Homo sapiens: one gene and its partner. The protein of the gene in region 1 purifies or fractionates together with the protein of each later gene. This does not show direct contact. Each region holds a gene or a part of one and is shown on either strand. Other genes may lie near its edges.

What was found. Proteins that work in one complex are often made in the same cells at the same time.
Region 2: the proteins of POLR3H (region 1) and POLR2H purify together in Homo sapiens (affinity purification with mass spectrometry; 5 studies listed by BioGRID and IntAct, with this or other methods). This does not show direct contact.

Annotation. Positions count from the first base shown.
Region 1 is NC_000022.11:41,541,458-41,549,188, reverse strand, and holds the start of POLR3H (DNA-directed RNA polymerase III subunit RPC8), read left to right. Parts: upstream 1-4,718; 5' UTR 4,719-5,087; coding exon 5,088-5,198; intron 5,199-7,731.
Region 2 is NC_000003.12:184,357,316-184,364,709, forward strand, and holds the start of POLR2H (DNA-directed RNA polymerases I, II, and III subunit RPABC3), read left to right. Parts: upstream 1-4,394; 5' UTR 4,395-4,831; intron 4,832-4,925; exon of another isoform or gene 4,926-5,189; intron 5,190-5,290; exon of another isoform or gene 5,291-5,409; intron 5,410-5,557; 5' UTR 5,558-6,177; coding exon 6,178-6,250; exon of another isoform or gene 6,251-6,259; intron 6,260-7,394. Other genes in the region: CLCN2 (chloride channel protein 2), read right to left, coding at 47-172, 305-383, 464-541, 647-780, 867-995, 1,367-1,498, 1,660-1,816, 4,102-4,164. UniProt on the Homo sapiens protein: DNA-dependent RNA polymerase catalyzes the transcription of DNA into RNA using the four ribonucleoside triphosphates as substrates.

The DNA.
Region 1 (7,731 bases):
TGGTCTCGAACTCCTGACTTCTAACGTCATGGCGGGGCACAGCCTGGTGGTCGTGATTAGGGACTCTGGGGCCTGGGTCCCAGGTTTGCCACTTACTGGCTGTATGACCTTGAATGACCTACTTAACCTCTGTTTACCTTAGATGAGGCAAAATGAGACAATTGGGCAAGTGAGATAACGATGATAGCTCCTACTGTATACAGCTGTTCTGAGGATCAAACTTAATGCATATAAAGCACCTAAGTAGTACTTGACATATAGTAAGTGCTCATGAATGTTAGCTGTTAATATAATCATAAGGCCCTCTGATCTGGATGCTGCTTAGGTCTCTAACCTCTTAGCTTACCAGTTGTCATCTCCCATGTAAATCAGCCCGAATATTATTATTTATTTCAGAGACAGAGTCTTGCTCTGTCACCCAGGCTGGAGGGCAGTGGCATGATCAAAGCTCACTGAAGCCTCAAATTCCTGGGCTCAAGCAATCCTCCCAACTAAGCCTCCCAAGTAGCTAGGACTACAGGCAAGTGCCATCACACCCAGCTAATTATTTTATTTTTTTAGTAGAGACAGTATCTCACTTTGTTACCCAGGCTGGTCTCAAACTGACCTTAAGCAATCCTCCTGCCTCGGCCTCCCAAAATGTTGGGATTATAGGCATGAGCCACTGTGCCTGGCTCCAAATACTTTTAATTACCTGAGAGTACAAACTCGCTCTTTCTCTCAGTGCCCACCCTGCTGCCCCCCAACTCCAGCACCAAGTGCTCTGAGTTGAAGCTCGGTTTGAGGCCCAGTTTTTCTTCTGCATTGCATCTCCAACAACTGTACACAACAGTATGTTGAATGAATGCACGAATGAATGAGAACAGCATCACATGTGGGTTCTGTTTTGGGCTGTTCTCACGTTGCTATAAAGAAATACCTGGGCCTGGCGTGGTGGCTCACGCCTGTAATCCCAGCACTTTGGGAGGCCGAGGCAGGCAGATCACCTGAGGTCATGAGTTTGAGACAAGCCTGGTCAACATGGTGAAACCCCGTGTCTACTAAAACTACAAAAATTAGCCAGTCGTGGTGGCATGTGCCTATACTCTCAGCCACTCAGGAGGCTGAGGCAGGAGAATCGCTTGAACTCAGGAGGCGGAGGTTGCGGTGAGCTGAGATGGCACCTCTGCACTCCAACCTGGGTGACACGCACAAAAAAAAAAAGAAAGAAAAAAGAAATACCTGGCTGGTAGTGGTGGCTCATGCCTGTAATCCCAGCACTTTGGGAGGCCGAAGCTGAGGATCACTTGAGGTCAAGAGTTTCAGACCAGCCTGGCCAACATGGCAAAACCTTGTCTCTACTGAAAGTACCAAAATTATCCAGGTGTGGTGGTGCACGCCTGTAATCCCAGCTAGTCTGGAGGCTGAGGCAGAAGAATCGCTTGAAATGGGGAGGTGGAGGTTGCAGTGAGCCCTGATAGCGCCACTGCACTCCAGCCTGGGCAACAGAGCTGGTTAATTTATAAAGAAAATAGGCTGGCTGGGCACGGTGGCTCACGCCTGTAATCCCAGCACTTTGGGAGCCCAAGGCGGGTGGATCATGAGGTGAGGAGATCGAGGCCATCCTGACTAACACGGTGAAACCTCATCTCTACTAAAAATACAAAAAACTAGCTGGGCGTGGTAGCGGGTGCCTGTAGTCCTAGCTACTTGGGAGGCTGAGGCAGGAGAATGGCATGAACCCGGGAGGTGGAGCTTGCAGTGAGCCGAGATCATGCCACTGCACTCCAGCCTGGGCGACAGAGCAAGAATCCGTCTCAAAAAAAAAAAAATAGGTTTAGTTGGCTCATGGTTCCACAGGCTTTACAGCAAGCATGGTACTGGCATAGGCTCAGCTTCCAGGGATGCCTCGGGAAGCTTCCCATGATATCGGAAATCAAAGGAGGAGCAGGCACATCACATGGGGAAAAGAGGAGCAAGAGAGAGAGTGGGAGGAGGGAGGTGCTACACACTTTTTTTTTCAAGATGGAGTTTTGCTCTTGTTGCCGAAGCTGGAGTACAATAGCGCGATCTCTGCTCACCAGAACCGCCACCTCCTGGGTTCAAGCGATTCTTCTGCCTCAGCCTTCCTGAGTAGCTGGGATTACAGGCATGCGCCACCACGCCCGGCTAATTTTGTATTTAGTAGAGACGGGGTTTCTCCATGTTGGTCAGGCTGGTCTTGAACTCCTGACCTCAGGTGATCCGCCCACCTTGGCCTCCCAAAGTGCTGGGATTACAGGCATGAGCCACACGCCTGGCCACCACACACTTTTTTTTTTTGAGACGGAGTCTCACTTTGTCGCCAGGCTGGAGTGCAGTGGTGTGATCTCAGCTCACTGCAACCTCTGCCTCCCGGGTTCAAGTGATTCTTCTGCCTCAGCCTCCCAAGTAGCTGGGACCACAGGCGCGTGCCACCACGCCCGGCTACTTTTTTTTTTTTTTTTTTTTTTTTGTATTTTTAGTAGAGACAGAGTTTCACCGTGTTAGCCAGGATAGTCTCAATCTCCTGACCTTGTGATCCACCCACCTCGGCCTCCCAAAGTGATGGGATTACAGGTGTGAACCACCACGCCTGGCCCCGCCACATACTTTTAAATGACCAGATATTGGCTAGTCACGGTGGCTCATGCCTGTAATCTCAGCACTTTGAGAGGCCAAGATGGGGGGGATCACCTGAGGTCAGGAGTTCGAAACCAGCCTGGCCAACATGGTGAAATCTTATCTAAAAATACAAAAGTTAGCTAAGTGTGGTGGTGGGCACCTGTAATTCCAGCTATTTGGGAAGCTGAGGCAGGAGAATCGCTTGAACCCAGGAGGTGGAGGTTGCATTGAGCTGAGATCATGCCACTGCACTCCAGTCTGGGCGACAGAGCAAGATTCCGTCTCAAAAGAAAAAAAAAAGAAAAGGCCTGAACCGAAGCAATAGCAGTGGGAGTGGAATGAAGAGGAAACATTTGAGAGGAAGAATTAATGGTAATCCCTAAACACCTTTACTCAATGCTTCCTAGGAATGTGTTAGGGGATTGTGGGAATAAAGAGCTGAAGTAGCATTTGCTGCTGTCCTCAAGTACCTCAAATCCTATAGAAGCACACCTAAAAATAAAATCATAGATGCAGGGAAGGCCACATTTAGCATCACTGCAGCCAGTGTCACTGAGAGATCACTATGCTTGTGAAATCAGCAAATTAAGGCACCATACATTTCCAAGTGCCTCTGTCATTTACCCCAAGTATCTTTTGTAAGTACCTAAATTGTTATTTTGGTTAAAACACACTACAAGCCCGGGCGCGGTGGCTCACACCTGTAATCCCAGCACTTTGGAAGGCTGAGGTGGGCAGATCATGAGGTCAGGAGATCGAGACCATCCTGGCTAACACGGTGAAACCTCGTCTCTACTAAAAAAAAATACGAAAAATTAGCCAGGCGTGATGGTGGGCGCCTGTAGTCTCAGCTACTCGGGAGGCTAAGGCAGGAGAATGGCGTGAACCCGAGAGGCGGAGCTTGCAGTGAGCCAAGATCGCGCCACTGCACTCCAGCCTGGGCGACAGAGCGATCCTCCGTCTCAAACAAACAAACAAACAAAAAAACCCACTACAGTATACATCTACACCCCACCAATTTTTAGAGGCAGGGTAGTGAGGTTCAGACTGGGCCCACCTCTACCACTTGTCAACACGTGATCTTGGGTAAGCTACCAAATTCTCTTAGCCCATGCTATCACGTGAAGATGAATGAGACTGGAATGTCAGCGAGACAGAGCATGATGGGGCTATAGGAGGGGGGTATGGTCAGATCTTGCAGGGCCGTGTGAACTACCATAAAGGTTTTGGACTTTTCTTCTTTCTTTCTTCTTTTCTTTCTTCTTTCCCTTTTCTTTCTTCTTTCTTCTTCTTCTTCTCCTTCTTCTTTCTTCTTCTTCCGCCTCTCCTTCTTCTTCTTTTTCGTTTAGACATGAGGTGTCACTGTCACCCATGCTAGAGTGCAGCATGCAACCTCAAACTGCAACCTCAAACTCCTGGACTCAAGCGATGCTGCTGTCTCAGGCTTCTGAGTAGGTGGGACTACGGGTGTACACCACCACGCCCGGCTTGGATCTAGTATTCTAAGTTCAATGGGTTGTGTTTTTTGTTCCAATTTATTATAACTTTTCAATTGGAACATAATGTCTACAAATAAATGCAAAAATCTTGCCGAGTTCAATTAGTTTGGACAATTATATACGTCAATGTTATACCACCGAAAACAAAATACAGAACATTTCCATCATCTCAGAACAGTCCCAAGTGCCCCTTTCCTGCTAATTCTCCTTGTCTCCGGAACACTTAAGGGTGCTAAGCATGTTATGTTTGCGGTGGGTTTTTTTTTTAACTTAGATGTGGTAATATATGTTTGCGTTTCCAAAGGATCACTCTGGCTGCCGAGCAGAGGACAGCAATGCGGGTAAAGCACAGGCCAGGCGAGGGATAATCAGGCGGGATTGCACGGAGGTCGCCTAGCAACAGAAAGCGCTGTCGGGGGCGGGGGAACCGCTCTGCTCCTGTGAAAGGAGGAGGCCCCGCCCTCTCCTCGCCCTCTCTCTGCCCCACGCTGTGCGCGAGCACACAGGCAGCCCCGCCCCGCCTCGGCGGGGTGGGGGTGGACAGAGGTTTCTTATTGGTGAGTTTTCCGGAAGCGATGGATTCGGAATCTCGCCCGCAGTCGCGCAAGCGCGAGCGGCTGTGCGCGGTGCGTGGTGCGTGGTGCGTGATACGAGCGGCGGCACGTGGCGCGGGTGCGGGGCGTGGAGTGGCGTGGCGTGGAGTGGCGTGGCGTGGCGGGGTCTCGCGGCGCGGGCGCGCACCCGGAGCTGTGGACGGAGAGTGCCTCCCTCTGGCCTCAGTTTCCTCATGTTGTAGTAGCGGAGCATGGCCCGGACCGGGCCCCCGAGACCGCCCCGTGCAACCTCACCGCCAGCCTGGGGGCCTCAGCGACTGGGACGGGACCAAGGGGCTCGGGGATTCTCCCTGCCCCCGGCCCTGGTGCGTGACTGACCCTCCTGTTCCCAGAGCCCCCAGCGCAGGCCGGGATGTTCGTCCTGGTGGAAATGGTGGACACCGTCCGGATCCCCCCTTGGCAGTTTGAGAGGAAGCTCAACGACTCCATTGCCGAGGAGCTGAACAAGAAGTTGGCCAACAAGGTACTGGGCCCACGGCTCGCGGGCAGGCCTTGGCGTGGGAGAGCGAGCGCCGCCCACTGGCCGCAGGCCCGGCCTCGGTCATGCCAAGCCCTGGCCGTGGGCAAGCAGCTTAATGTCTCAGAACTTTTCTTCACCGTGAAAGGAGATATTGAAGGGGATCAAAAGAAAATGGGCTTGAAAAAGGGAGTTGTAACTGGAAGTGTTAGATTCCACAATTCTAAATTACTTTGCAATTGCAGGCAAGTTACTGACCCCTTCTGGGCCTCAGTTTCCATTTTTAAAATGGGGATAAAATATTGCTGTCCTTCCAGCCATGCATTGTTTTTGTTGTTGTTGTTGTTTGTTTTGTTTTGTTTTGTTTTTTGTTTTTGAGACGGAGTCTTGCTCTTTCGTCCAGGCTGGAGTGCAGTGGCGCGATCTCGGCTCACTGCAACCTCCGCCTCCCGGGTTCAAGCGATTCTCCTGCCCCAGCCTCCCGAGTAGCTGGGACAACTACAGGCGCGCGCCACCACCCCCAGCTAATTTTTGTATTTTTCGTAGAGACGGGGTTTCACCATTTTGGCCAGGATGGTCTCGATCTCTTGATCCCCCCGCCTCGGCCTCCCAAAGTGCTGGGATTACAGGTGTGCGCCATCGCCTCGGGTCAATGCATTGTTTTCGTGAAGATGGAGAGTTCTAGTAGTACAGAATTAACTGTCAGGAGGTTCATCCCTTCATTCCAGCAGCCAATATTTGTGCGCCTTCTCTGTGCTGTGCCTGTGTGCCTTAGTACCAGCTGAGAGGTCTTCCCACTGCCGTTTCTTTGACAGTCCTCCCTTTCCAGGTATTCTGTGTCACATCACTCTCTTTCCTTCTTAGACTTTTTCCTTTCCCTCTCCTTGAGAGCAGGGACCTTATCTGCCTTCTTCCCTGAAGTATCCCCTCATTTAGCCAAAGCCTGGCGGGAGTAGATGTCCCATAATTTTCTGTTTTGTGTTTGTGTGTGTGAGACAAGAGTGCCGCTCTTGTCGCCCAGGCTGGGGTGCAATGAAGCGATCTTGGCTCACTGCAACCTCCACCTCCCAGGTTCAAGCTATTCTTCTGCTTCAGCCTCCTGAGTAGCTGGGATTACAGGCACCTGCCACCACACCTGGCTAATTTTTGTACTTTTAGTAGAGACGGGGTTTCACCATGTTGGCCAGGCTGGTCTCAAACTTCTGACCTCAGGTGATCTGCCTGCCTCAGCCTCCCAAAGTGCTGGAATTACAGGTGTGAGCCACCGTGCCCGGCCATTTGTTGACTGAATGAATGAAACAGAGACAAGGCTCTGTGCTATAGTGTGGTGGGAAAGCAGATATGAATGAGAAGGGTCCACAGTTGAGTGTTTGGTGACAAATTGAGGTAAATGTTATGAGGGACAGGTGTTCACACACCTGTGGAACAAAGGAACGTCCCCTGGAATGAGGGGACCTGCAGCTTTGTTGAGGAGGTGGGGTTGAAGGTGAGATCTGATGGTGAAGTGGAGCCAACCAGAGGATTCCTTTCTAGGGTGGGAGGGGGCTGGGTGGAGAGAAGAGCCCTGAAGGCAGGAACTGGCATGTGCAAAGGCCCTGTGAAGAAGGAATACAGGCCGGGCGTGGGGGCTCACACCTGTAATCCCACCACTTTGGGAGGCTGAGGCGGGTGGATCACCCAAGGTCAGGAGTTTGAGACCAGCCTGTCCAACATGGTGAAGCCCCATGTCTACTAAAAATACAAAAAATAGCTGGGCATGGTGGCAGGCACCTGTAATCCCGGCTACTTGGGAGGCAGAGGGAGAAGAATCACTTGAACCCAGGAGGCAGAGGTTGCAGTGAGCTGAAATCGCACCACTGCCTTCCAGCCTGGGTGACAAGAGTGAAACTTCGCTTCAAAAAAAAAAGAAGAAGGGGTAAAATACCCACCATGGTGTGGAAGAGGCTGGTGTGGCTTGGGCAGAGGGGAGGGTGGGCTGGACAGGTGGGTGGGGGCCAGGCCACACAGCCCTGTAGGATGTCGGAGTTGAGGTATTGGTCTTTATCCGTGGAGCATCAGAAGGTGATGGGCTGAGAAGGAGCCAGAAAGAGGATGCTTAGCTGGCTTTACGCATGAGACAGGTCCCTTCAGAAGAGGTGAGGTTGATTTGGGGGTTGCTAGATAGTGAAGGGAACTCATGGAGTCTTTAAGTGGATGGCTTCTGGTTACTTTGTGAGGTTGAAGATGAGGGTCTGTTGGGGGATGGAGGTGTGGACCTTGAGAGAGAAGGTGTGGAAAGTCCAAGAAGGGAATATAGTCCCTTTGGGGTAGAGGTCCTGTTGGGACAAGTCTTCTAGTATTTGATTAGATGAATCGTTTGAGAGGGGGCCCACACAGAAATCCATGGTCTGACAAAGGGCACAGATCTTGTGGCATTATCTTGGTGAGGTCTGGCCACGACTCTGAGTTCTCTGAGCTTCTTGCTAATTCTTGGACAGTTCTTGCAAGGGTTCTAAGTGGGGGTGATGACACGGTGGCAGATAAGGAGACACTGAGTAGC
Region 2 (7,394 bases), on another chromosome or scaffold:
TACCTGGCACCATCTCGGGCTGCCCTCATCCCCTGGGTGCCCCCACCTTCATCCCGGTTCCAGACTGCCAAGACCCGGAAGATGAAGGCACTGAAGGTGGCAGCGAAGAAGCCCCGCCAGTAGTTCCGCACTGCAAAGAAGGTGGAGGTGACCTCGATGCTGAAGAGGACGCCTGTGAGGGGGAGGGAGACCAGCACTTGAGGCCTGGGCCTGGCCTAAGGCCTCAGACCCAGATAAGAGGGGCCAAGGAGGAGAGGCCAAGGGCAGGGTTGTGGGGCTGGACTGACCTAGGAGCCCTGCCTACCTCCAATAGGTGCCGCGAAGCAGCAGCCCACCCCCACGGCACAGGCGGCAGCCAGCATCTCTGTGTTCCGGGATTCATTCTGGCGAGAGTGGTGGCAAGAGGGGGTCAGCTGTGGGCTCAGCAGCCTCTGCCCCCTACTTGCCCCAGGGTTCCCCTTACCTCATAGATACCCCCAAAGAGGGAGAGGAACTTGCTGAGAAGGGCAGCACACATGCTTGCGATATGCACAAAAGGGCCCTGCGGGGTGGGGCAGGCGGTGAGTCGGGAGGGGGCCCGCCCTGACCTTGGCCTGGCCTCCTCTTCCACCAGGAGGGACTCCTTCATTCCCCAGCCTGCAGTTACCTCTTTGCCAAGCGGCATCCCGCTGCCTAGGGCGCAGGTCAGCCCAATGACCTTAGCTATAAAGGTCTTGAGTGTGAGGTATTCTTTCAGCACCACTCCCCGCAAGATGGTCTTCATCTCAGGGATGCCAGAGCCTGGAGAGGGAACAGTCTCAGGAGAGGCATTCGATGCACCCATTTCAGGGGTCCCGCCTCTGCCCTCCCCTTCTCTTCTAACATACCGACAGCCTGAGGGGCCAGGATCTGTGTGAATCCGGCTGAGAAAGTGATGAGGACAACAGGGTAGGTGACCCAGGCCAGGTACTGGAGCAAGATGCTGGTGTTCAAGCCCCGGGACATCCACTGCTGGGCTGTGGGAAGAGGACCTGCTGGACCCCCAGTGCACACACCCACTGCCTGCCTGGCCAGTGGACCACGCTGATACGACAGGCTGTCCCAGGGAGTACCACACAGAGTCAGGGCATGGGTGAAGGAAAGGGTCCCTGAGGGTATTCACTGGGACAAAGCGCAATCTAGGCAAGAGGATCACTTGGAGAGGGGATGCAAGAAGCTGTGCCCTGTGGGAGTGGCCGAGATGATGCCTGAATCTGGGCAGTCAGACTGGCTGGGGAAAGTGGTCAGTGGCCAAGAAGCCAAGACGCCTTCCTCCATGTCTAGACGAGTGTGGCATGGACGCAGGAGGTTTATTCCCAGTCCTCCCCCTGCCAGCTGTCACCCTCACCTTGCAGACAGGCAGCAATGGCATAGTCCATGACCCAGCTGACCAATGCCATGAGAAGCCCCAGCAGGACCAGGAAGATCCAATCTTCACCAACCCTGGATACTAGGAACTTGTGGCAGCGGACAGAACAGACTGGGTGCAGGGAAGGGAAGAAGGGGGAGGATGGCACCAAAGTGCTCCTACCCCTTTTACTGCCCCCTCAACTGTCCCCTCTCCCCCATCAGCAGCTCTAATGGCCTCTGCTTCCCTCAGCACAGCACAGCCAGGTCCCCTGCCCCCACCCCAGTTCTCACCGCGGCATCGGGCGCAACGGCTCCGTCCATATTCCAAGAGCTCTGGGGCAGCCCGAGAGGAAGGGGGACCTTTCCAGGGTTCAGGCCCTCCCAGGCGAATCCGAGCAGCTTCCTCTTTGGCAAAGGCCCCAAGGTCCTGAGTGTACCGGCCATACATCTGGAGCAACAGAGGGGATGGGGGCATTCGAGGTCATGGGCTGAGTGGGAACGCAGGGAGAGTTCTTAGAGCCTCCACTCCTCTTCTCCCAGCCCCCACACTGGATATCCCTCTTGAACGCACAGTTCCCACTCTGGCCCGAGGTGTGGGAACAATGCACATTGCAGACTGTGGAGGCTGTCCTGGCCAGAGTGATGGGGACAGCCAAGGTACAGGGACACAGCTCTGGGGGTGGCAGAATAATCGGTCCTCTTCTCACAGGCCTGGGGCTGGGGCACTGAAGAGGAGTGAGAGGGAAGCCCCAGAAGAGGAAAAGGTGGAAAAACCTGTGGCACAGTCTAAAAGTGGGAGGCGGGAAGGCCAGGGAGTAAGGGATGATCAGGGGCACATGGGCAACAATAAGAGCCTCGTGGAGCTCGGGGCAGCTGAGTTGGGCCCAGGAGCAGGCGCAGCCCCAATCCTTATCACGTTCCTGCTGGGCCTCCGGCCTGTGACCAACTCAGCTGCACCTCTCCCACCCACCCTAATCCCCTTGTCCCCATTCTCCACTGCCACCCCCACCAGCCTGCCAGCCCAGCTGGGAGTGGAAAGCCTCTCACTTAGGGTGGGTGGAGAGGGCTTGGTGGCCTCAGCCCCATTCTGGAGCTGCACTGAGCCCAGCGGTGGGTTGGGGGACAGCGGAGGCTGAGGATGGCTGGGCTGTGACTGTGGATGCTGGGGTGATGGGACGGGAGAGTCGCCTGAACCATGGCTAGACCTGCCAAGCTGGGCGTGTGTTGGGGGGCGGGGAGGAGTAGATTCTGGCTGCCACCCGCAGAGCTTCGGGACACAAAGGGCTCCTGTTGGGGCTGGGATGGGGGGGAGGGAGGGAGGGAAAGATAGAGACAGAGAGAGGGTGAGAGATAGGAAAGGGAAAGCAAAGAGAAGAGAGGGAACTAGAGAGGAGAAAGTAGAAGAGAAAAGAGAGGGAAGGCGAAGGGATGGAGAAGAGAAAGAAGGGGATGAGAGAGGAAGAAGTACGGAGGAGGAAGAGAATGGAGAGTATTAAGAGGCAAGCACGGTGTAGGAGGAGGGAGGTGAGAGTGGGAGAGAAAGACAAAGGGATAGGATGGTGAAGGGGGGCGGGAGCAGGCTGGAGCACAGAGTGCCCGGGACAGAGCTCGACCCTGAGAGCTCATTCCAGAGACAGCTGGAAGGGACGGAGATGGAGAGGTGGCTGGTGTTAAGAGGCACCATTTCAGAGGCCAGGTGCCTGGCTTCCTTGACCATGCTCCTATCCTGGTCTGGGCAGATTGGCAAGTGTCTCCTACCCCATCCCAAGGGTTGGCCCCTCTACCCTTGCTCTACTCCCACCTCTCCCTGACATCCTGATTCATCCAGCTACTTTCTCCTAACTGGGCACCTCCCAGACTTATAGCCTCTCCTCTCCAAGACGTTCCCTCCCTGCCACCTTCCTGGGCAAATTCCAGCCCAAGCTGGTAAAAAGGAACCACGGGCCCCTTCCTTTCCCTAGGGCTTGGGTCTTCCACCCCAGTGACATGAGGAGGGTCACGTGGCTTCTCAAACACCAAGTAACAATGGGGGCGATAAGTCAGCTCAGAGCCCAGGACCCCTGCTTCTAATGAGGTCAGGGGACACACCCTGGGGTGGGTGGGGGCTGGATACCCCGCATCAGCATAGACAAAGGTCCCAATTCCCACACCCATTCCTGCTTCACCCACCCTCCCTAAAGCTCCTGTCCCCCAGAGTGGCAAGCCACCTTTTTCCAGAGTCAACTGAGGGGCTCCTGGAGCCAACGCTGGGTGTGGAGCCTCCAGAGGTAGGGTCTGGGGCTGACCATCTTTCTACACACTCGATTCTATGCTTAGCATGGTGCCATGCACATGGCAGGGACACAGAGAATGTCTTGGGTGGTGGAGATAGTGGCGTAGAGAAAGTTCAATGGTGTGAATGGTGCCGCGGAAGGGGCAGTGGGGTGCTGAGACTTGGGCCCAGGTGGTGAAGGGGAGGTGCAAAGAAAACGTGCATGTTGTGGGGTGAGGGGAAGGACACCTGAGACAAGTACCTGGTGTCCTTGTCCTCTGCAGGCCCTCAGCCTCAGCCAGAAACCAGCATGCAGTTTTCCATCCCTTCGGCCCTGCAGCCTCAGACTTCCAAGCCTCAGTTTCCCCAGCTCAAAATGCTAGGACAGGATTAGGGTAGGCCCCTGGTCCTCGCGCTTCCCAGGGTAACCTGGAGCAGGGGTCCCGGAGCGCACTCCTGGGGCTCAGCTCAGCTTCACTTACCAGGGTCTGCTCGTACTGCAGCGCCCGTGGCTCCATCCCTTCCTCCGCCGCCGCGGCCGCCATCTCCGCGCACTGCCCTCTCGCCTCCCTCGGCGGTTCCGGCTCTGTCCTGGACTCGGCTCCCGGCCCGCAAAGTCCGCGCCGGCAGCCGTCCCGTCCCCGCAGCCCGGGAGGCCGAGAGCAGAGTGCGGCGGGCCCCCGGCGGGCGCCGCTGGCGCAGCCTCCCGCTCGCGTCCCCTCCCCGGCGGGCGGGCCGAGGGCGGTGCCCTCTGCGCTGCTCCGCCCGCCGGCCCATCCGGAGGGGACGGCCCAGCCAGGCTGGGGTCCGCGCGGGGCCTCCCGAGAGGCGGCAAGGGGCGCTGGGAAGGCGCAAGCCCGCGCCGGCTCCCTGCGGATGCCCGGGTCGGAGAGGGGCGCCCGGGAGGGGCGGGTCTACTGGCACGTGGAGGGGCCGGCCCGGGTTCGCGGTTCCCCGTGCCCAGGCAGGAGGGGCTGCAGACGCCTGAGCTCCGTAGGGGTTGGGGCTGGGGGCTGCGGAGCTGTCTACATCGGACTCCTCCGGGTCAGCCCGTTAGGAGCCGCCTCCCCTCTGCCCCTCCGAAGAGACGAGCGGCCCAGACAGGCCTGGGAAGGCCCCTCTGCCCCGTCAGGGGTGAAAAGCAAAGCTGGAAGGATTCGGAGAGGGTTGGGGCCGTCTTCCTCATCCTTCCTTTTCTCGGGGCTCCCGTGGGTAGGTGCACTTGGAGCAACCGGGCCTGCGGGGTGTGCGGGGGTGGAGGTTGGGGAGGGCACCGGAAGGGGTAGGCCGGAGGGAAGGGAGCTCCAGGTGCCGGGAAGTCTACTCCTGGGACGCGGGCGTGGGTCGCTTCTCCCTGGCTGGGCCCAAGGAGGAACCCAAGTCGCTGCTTCCATCCCTCCGCTTTGGGGGAACTGCCTGCTGGTGTTCTGGGTTCTCTATCAGGGGCTGGGGAAGGATAGAACAGAGGGCGGAGCGCGCGCAGGGTGGATGGGCAGCGTAGAGATAGTGTGAGAGGAGCGAGGGCAGCGCCCAGGAAACGCACAAGTGTGCGGGAGAGCCAGCACCAGGAGTAAGGGGCATTTGGGAGGCAGAGGCGGGGCTCAGGGGGCGGGAGCAGTGCCCGGGAAGGGGGGGCCTTGTGATAGAAGCCAGCACTCAGGAGGAAGGGCCAGTGTGAGGGAAGAGCTGGTATCCAAGGGACAGGGCAGTGCCAGGCTGAAGGGGCACGGAGGGGATCCGTGTCCAGGAGAAGGCAGTGGAGGGGGAACGCGCAGCACTAAGCTGGAGGGGTAATGCCCGGGGGAGGGGGGTGGCGGGAGCCCGGCTGAAGGGGCGGTGTAGGGGAAGAGAGCAGGGCCTGGGGGGAAGAGGGAGGGCAGTGGTGGGAGGGTGCAGTACGAGAGGAGGGGACAATGCAGGCTTTCCTCTTCTCCATAGCGACGTCATGGCAAATTCCCAAACTGGACGGATCCGGCTCGGGTTACGTCCAGCAGGGCCGAGCCGGCCCAGGCCGGCCCCGGGGTCCTCGGTGCCGGCTGGAGGGGCTGGGCACCTCTGGGGCGGGGTTCTGCTCCACCTGCCCTCGGCGCGGACTGTGCCCTCGGCGGGCACGCGGACCGGCGGGGTAGGGCTAGGGCCCGGCTTCTCTGGGCCAAGGATCAAGGTCCCTGCCTGGGTTAGGCCCCCACGCATTCCAGTCTTCGGAACCCGGCCTCTGAAGAGGGCGCAGTAGGGCCCCAGCGGAGCGCGAGAACCCGCTCTACAGCCTATTGCTTCCCCGCCCTGGGCAGAGCCACCTGGACATGAGACCCGCCCTCAATGCCGAAGCCTCTCGGAAGCAATCTTTCGGGACGGAAGTTAAGTAGCCCCGAGCGGGAGGCTGTGGCGGAAGTGGTCGCGTTACCGCTTGTTTGTGCGCATGCGCCACTCTCGTCTGGCCGCCGCGCTTTCAGGAGGTGCTTTTGGTTCTCTCCGGTCTTGTCCACGCTAGGGGGTGCACGTACTCCCAACTGTGGTCGCGCTCTCACCCCTTCTGCTGCTCTCGTGGCCCCCTCGCGATGGCGGGCATCCTGTTTGAGGATATTTTCGATGTGAAGGATATTGACCCGGAGGGCAAGAAGTTTGACCGAGGTAAGTAAGGTATGTAGGGGCGGTTTGGAGGAAGAGGCTAACCTCGCGGACATGCCCCTGGGCCCCGTGTCCACCCAGCTCTTGTGGCCTGCCCCTACCAGCAGGTCCTGGTGTAGGGACCTCCCTCAGTAAACATTTTATGGATGAGAAAACGGAGACTCCCGAGCTCTCTCTGGCTTCACGCATGCCGTGCCCGGTGCCTGGGTGGCCTTTTGTCATGGTGCTGGCAAACTCCTAGGCATATTTATAATCGCTACCTGCTCTGTGCTAGACACTGTCTTGTGAGACCAGCCTGGCCAACATGGTGAAACCCCGTCTCTACCAAAAATACAAAAATTAGCCTGGCGTGGTGGCGGGCGCCTGTAATCCCAGCTACTTGGGAGGCTAAGGCAGGAGAATTGCCTGAACCTGGGAGGCGGAGGTTGCAGTGAGCCAAGATCGCGCCACTGCACGCCAGCCTGGGCGGCAGAGCGAGACTCCGTCTCAAAAAAATGACAGTCCTCATGAGGTGGGTGGTGCCTTTCCCATTTTTCTCTGAGAGGTTGAGTAAACCACCCAAGGCTTCACAGCGAGTAATCTGACTTCAGAGCCTATATTCTTGTATTGCCCTCAGAATCTTTAGCGCTTTGTGAAGTCTTCTTTGAGTTAGAGTTAGCTGCTTGGTATATACCTTTTTTTTTTTGAGACGCAGCCTTTCTCTGTTGCCCAGGCTGGAGTGTAGTGGCACGATTTTAGCTCACCACAACCTCCGTCTCCCGGGTTCAAGCGATTCTCTGCCTCAACCTCCCAAGTAGCTGGGATTACAGGCATGCGCCACCACGCCTGGCTAATTTTGTATTTTTAGTAGAGACAGGGTTTCACCGTGTTGGCCAGGCTGGTCTCAAACTCCTGATCTCAAATGATCCACCTGCCTCGGCCTCCCAAAATGTCGGGATTACAGGCATGAGCCACTGCACCGGCCTACACCTCTTTATTTTGTCATCTATCAATAATTTTCTCTTTGATGTCTCTTTCTTTGCCTGGAGACTAAGATGTTTTTCAAGACGGATACCAGTTCTTATACATCTTGGTCACTCCCCTCAGCACAGTGCCTAGCATAGAAAGAGAAAACCTTTGGATGATTGAATAACTTGCCCAGAGTCAG